2 separate regions of the Homo sapiens genome follow, and region 2 is linked to region 1. A link means that fine-mapping ties the variant in region 1 to the expression of a gene that starts in the linked region. Tissue or cell type: whole blood. Region 1 holds a variant in brackets; the other region holds the start of a gene. All regions are shown on one strand. Distances are from middle to middle.

The links. PIP is the estimated chance that this variant, and not a neighbour inherited with it, causes the effect.
Region 2: it holds the start of PNKD, and the variant in region 1 is fine-mapped to the expression of PNKD in whole blood (INTERVAL, PIP above 0.99). The same link has a PIP of 0.9 or more in blood mononuclear cells.

The regions. Positions count from the first base shown.
Region 1 is chr2:218,322,726-218,325,404 of GRCh38, reverse strand. The region is part of intron 2 of PNKD (PNKD metallo-beta-lactamase domain containing); the gene reads right to left. Among named protein-coding and RNA genes, the nearest start is that of MIR6810, 18 kb to the left of the region's middle. RefSeq lists an enhancer at 1,932-2,527 and a silencer at 2,010-2,529. The variant G/A (reference allele first, on the strand shown) is at 1,290.
Region 2 is chr2:218,269,242-218,271,920 of GRCh38, reverse strand. It overlaps PNKD (PNKD metallo-beta-lactamase domain containing), which reads right to left and starts at 1,402. Exons shown (of 10, transcript NM_015488.5): 1 at 1,319-1,402; 2 at 372-540. The coding sequence starts at 1,385. It overlaps AAMP (angio associated migratory cell protein), which reads left to right and starts at 1,784. Exons shown (of 11, transcript NM_001087.5): 1 at 1,784-1,955; 2 at 2,387-2,539. The coding sequence starts at 1,835. RefSeq lists enhancers at 1,108-1,157, 1,188-1,567, 1,718-2,037, 2,606-2,679.

The sequences.
Region 1 (2,679 bases):
GAAACCCCATCTCTACTGAAAATACAAAAATTAGCTGGGTATGGTAGCAGGTGCCTGTAGTCGCAGCTACTCAGGAGGCTGAGGCAGGAGAATTGCTTGAACCCGGGAGGCGGAGGTTGCAGTGAGCTGAGATTGTGCCACTGCACCACTCCAGCCTAGGGAACAGAGCAAGAGCCCGTCTCAAAAAAAAAAAAAAAAAAAAAAAAGGCCGGGTGCGGTGGCTCATGCCTGTAATCCCAGCACTTTGGGAGGCTGAGGTGGGCAGATCATGAGGTCAGGAGTTTGCAACCAGCCTGACCAACACGGTGAAACCCTGTTTCACCATGCTGAGATCATGCCATTGCATTCCAGCCTGGGTGACAGAGCGAGACTCCGTCTCAAAAAAAAAAAAAAAAAAAAAAAAAAAAGAAAATTATTTAGATACCTTCATGTTTGGGATTTTTTTTTCTTTTTCTTTTTTTTGTTTTTTGAGACGGAGTCTCACTCTGTCGCCCAGGCTGGAGTGCAATGGCTGCGATCTCGGCTTACTGCAACCTCCCTCTCCCGGCTTCAAGCAATTTTCCTGCCTCAGCCTCCTGAGTAGCTGGGATTACAGGCGCTTACCACCGTGCCCAGCTAATTTTTGTATTTTTAGTAGAGATGGCGTTTCACCATGTTGGCCAGGCTGGTCTCGAATTCCTGACCTCAGGAGAGCCACCTGCCTCAGCCTCCCAAAGTGCTGGGATTACAGGCGTGAGCCACCGCACCTGGCCTAAATATTTTTCAATCTCATTATTTTAATGCAACGTGCAGAGCAATGGTAACTTACTTGGCACATTATCTAAACTGCGACCAAGGTTTAGGATATTAGAGATGTGAATGCCCCAAAAGGCACAAACACAAGATCCCCACCCCACCCTCCAGCACCATGTTTTTCTAGTTATCCTGCCTTTATATCTGCATTTCTTAGACTGTGAGTGGAATCCTGCGCCTGAAGCTTCTGGGCGTGTGGGGTGGTCTGGGGAGGAGAGGGTGAATTGCACAATGTCTGCTCGGAAGCTCGGGAAATTCCCAGGCTTAGGCTCTCCCCACAACCTGGCCTGTGGCCAGGGCTCTCACAATTCCCATCCCCAACATTACTGTCCCTAAACTGGGGCTTGAGGTCCTGACCCATGGCCAGGCTGGTAGTAGGAAGGGGACAGGGGGCCTCGGAGGCCTGTCTTCTTCCCTGCCTCTCAGTGTCCCTGGGGCTGAACAGTGCTTGCTAGGCACCACCCTCCCCTGGGGCCAGGAAGGAAGGGGTAGAGGGA[G/A]GCAGGAGGGCAGAGTGAGCGGGGGAGGGTCGACGGAGACAAATCACTGGAAAAGTGGGCAGAGTCAGTTGGGTCAGATTTCACAGCCTGGGGCTTCCACACGGGCCAGGCTTTGGTTAGAAGGAAAGGGACATACTGGAATCCAACAGGGTTGGGACTCTTGCTTGGGACAGAAGAACCTAACTTGACTGGTGAGGAGTTGGATGCTGGGGAGTGGGACAAGGACATACGAAAGGAGTTGGCGGTTTTAAATGTCAGACGGTGGGAGGCATTCCTTCTCTCCGGCACTTGCCATCGGAGCCCGGGCATCTGCTGACCTCACCCCCGGACAGGGACGGTCTTCCCAGCCCTGGCTCCTGCACTATCCCCCTGTCCAGCTTCCTGGTCTCCAGCCCATTCTGTGGCACTTTGCTCCAGATGTCCTCTCACGCCCTCCTTCCGTGGCCACCCTGGCCCGCCTCTCCGATCCTCCTTCCCCAGCTTATCCCAATTGTCCAGCCCCCCAAATCCCTCAGGCCCCCCAACTCAGTGGCTTCTCCAGTCCGTCTCCTCGATCCCTCTTCCCTTAGACCAAGCCCCTTCCTAACCGCCACGCCCACCCCCAGCTCCAGCCCCCGCCTCCCAGTCCCCTCTCCCAGCGCGCCCGCCTCCCGAGCCCGCACGCTTCGGAGCCCGGGCACTAACCCGATTCGGAAGAGCAGCCGCTGGCTGTGCGCCATGAGCAGACCGCGGAGGCCCCGCCGCGCTCGGCAGCCGCGGGGGCTCACAAGTAGGACGAGGACAAGGACGAGGAGGAGCCAGCAGCCGGCGACCCACTGCCACGCCGCGGGCCAGCCCTGCCAAGCCATGCTGGGGGCAGGCACGCGCCGGCCGGGCGGGGCTCGGCGTTGCTAGGCAACGGCCCGGCCCCGGCCCCCCGCGGGGAACCTGCCTGCCGGCTCTGGACGTGGGGGCGTTGTGGCCCCGCCCCGCCCATTGACCTCTCCTTTGGACCCGCCCCCTCACCACCTCCAGCCGGGCAAGCACCCCGAAGGCCACCCGGCTTGGGGGGCGGCCTGGCTCCGCCCGGCTGGCGGCCAGGAGGCGGGGCCACAGCGGGCCGCGAGCCTGCGCTGATCGGGGTCCACAGTCGCCTGAGCCCTGGGAAGGGGCAGGAGCTCGCAGTTCGCCCCGCCCGCCTCCCCGTCCAGGGCACTGCTACACTTTCTCAACTGGCAGAAACCTGAGAGATCATCGGGGTCAGCTGCCATTCATGGATTTATTCATTCGCCGAATTACTTTTCTAGCTCCTCCTATGTACTTGGCACTCTGCCAGGCTCTGAGGAGGATGCAAGGGTCAAAGGCACACTGTCTGCATTCCTGGAGCCCACAGTCCGGAATCTAGTGAGGC
Region 2 (2,679 bases), 53 kb after region 1:
GAGCCCAATCACAATGTTCATAACGCCTTCTGAGTACTACTATACAACTAGTACAAGCTCACATGATCTCAACGAACTACTTACTTAAACTTGGGTCTCACTCCAAGCTCCCAAAAGGGAGGATGAGGCCAGGGACCCAAGTCTGAATCAGATCAACTCAGCTTACTCCACAGTAAACCCACTGTCTTCTCAATTCCACATACTTTCCCACCTCCACTGCCCCACCCCTCTGAGATTCCAATCGAACCCAACAATTCTGTTCCCACAACTTTGGATTCAGCTCGCCACCTGAAACTTGGAGAAGTTTCTAAGTCCTGCCCTCCCCTACAAGCCACGCCCCGTTGGTGGGCAAAGGGGTGGTTAAAACTCACCAGGCCAGTCCCACAGCTTTCATGGGGTTCTTGCCCCTCTTTCTGGGAATGTATTCCAGCTCCGGGGATAGGGGTTCAGGTTCCTCCTTGCCCTCTGGGGAGCTGTGGCTTTGCAGGGCCCGGGTCCTGTTATGAGAAGCCTTGTTAGCTGTGGCTCCTGCGAGAATCCCTGTGGATGGAGGTAAGGAAGGTCAGTAAGAAGAGATGAGAAGAAAGCAAGCGGGGAGGTGGGGGGCAGTAAGGGCTTGGGAGGAGCGGCTGAGATCTGGGGAAGGGGAGTGACTGCAGTCTGAAGTAAGAAGTGCCAAGGAGAATCCAAAGGGAAATGGGAAAATCGCCACCGAGGTGGCACCTTTGGAAGCCACTTCCACGTCACTGCGGGCTCATCACCCTGGTGCCAGGACGAAAAGCTTCGCTGTTCTTCCTCAGACGACAGCATGGGAAGGACTGCAGTGGGACTCACATAAGACGTATGAAGGAAATCCGGGAAAAGGTTTTGAAACTGCAAATGTTAGCACTGGAAGGGACCTTAAAGATAGTCTACTCCATCCCTTGCACTGTACGGAAGAGGAAACTGAAGCCCTGAGAGAAAAACTGCTTTGCCCAAGGTCAAACTGCTAATTATCCGGGGCTGGAACTCAAACCTCCAGAAGCCCGGGGCTCTTTCCTCTGCACTGCGGTGAGTGTGAAACACCTGGAGCGCGGGAGTCCAACAGGCTTCCTAGGAGCTCCCTCTTGCAGCAAGACCCCGGAGGTGTCGAGCAACCCGAAGGCGGGGGGATGCACTGGGTGACCTCTAAAGAGCATCTCTGCACCCCCAGACTCTAAGATCTTGCAGAAAAGTGTGGGGAGGAACCAAGAGCCCTGACCTCCTGCTATCGTCGGGCTGGACGTGAAAGAAAAGGGATCTTCTGCAGTCCTGCCCTCCCCGGGGTCCCTCTCCTTACCCCGGAGGACGCGGGCATTTCTCGCCCCCCGGCCCTTCAGCGCCGTAGCAGCTACCACCGCCGCCATGTTCAGATCCCACCCCCGCTTCACCGCGCTCCCCGCCGGGAATTGTAGTTTGCGTAAGGGGCCTCCCCCGCTCCTTCCGTCCTGCCTACAGACCAGAAACTACATCTCCCAGAAGCCCGCAGAGCGGACCCAGGAGAACTACTCTTCCCAGGAGACCCCGGAGGCGCGCGCGCTCGCTTGTTTCCCTCCAGTTGGGGGCGGAGTCAGGTGGGGCGGAGTTTGGGTTCTCTCCGCCACGCCCCGGCCCCATCTTCCAATGCCGCTCTGTGATTGGTGAGGCGGCCAGCCAACCTTCGTAGCTATTGGCCGAACGGCCGTCGCTCTTCCTGCTGGGGAGTCGCCTACGCCTACTTCCTGCCGGGAGGAGGGGCTCGAGTTCCGCGTCGTCGCGCAGAGCTGACTCTGGGAGGCGTTTGGGCCCAGAGAAGTGGATCCGCCGCTTGCGCCGCATGGAGTCCGAATCGGAAAGCGGGGCTGCTGCTGACACCCCCCCACTGGAGACCCTAAGCTTCCATGGTGATGAAGAGATTATCGAGGTGGTAGAACTTGATCCCGGTCCGCCGGACCCAGGTGAGAACTGCCGCTCCTCAGGCCATGGGACAGGAGACGCTCACCCCTGGCCTCTGACTCCTGCTTTTCCCCGCTCCCCTCCACACCCGACTGGTCATTCCTACCGATATCCCTCTTCCCCTCCTCCCCCACTCCCACCCTCACACTTAGTTCTCAGGCCTGGCTGGGGTGGGGGTTCCCTGACGCCTCCTCTGGCCCTTCCCCTCACACACCCCCTTCCCATCATCCCCTTGGCCCTCCCTTACCGCACGGTCTCTGGCCAGCCGTGGCCTCCCGTCCTGTGTCCCGCGCGCCCCCGCGGACCCCGGTGTGTCTGACTCCACCTTCCCTTCTCGCCACATGACCCGCCCCAGCCTCAGGCCTCCTCATGCTTCTCTCCGTACCTCTTACCGCCTCCCGAGCCCCATCTTCTAACCCTCTCCCCAAAGCAGATGACCTGGCCCAGGAGATGGAAGATGTGGACTTTGAGGAAGAAGAGGAGGAAGAGGGCAACGAAGAGGGCTGGGTTCTAGAACCCCAGGAAGGGGTGGTCGGCAGCATGGAGGGCCCCGACGATAGCGAGGTCACCTTTGCATTGCACTCAGGTAGGTCTTTGAGGCGATCCACCTCAAATCAGTTTAGGTGGGCGTGTAAGCATTAAACATCAGCCATGGACAGAACGTTATGGGGGACACAGAGATGGGCAAGATGCTGGCCTTGCGCTGGAGGAGCCCACAGGTGGGAA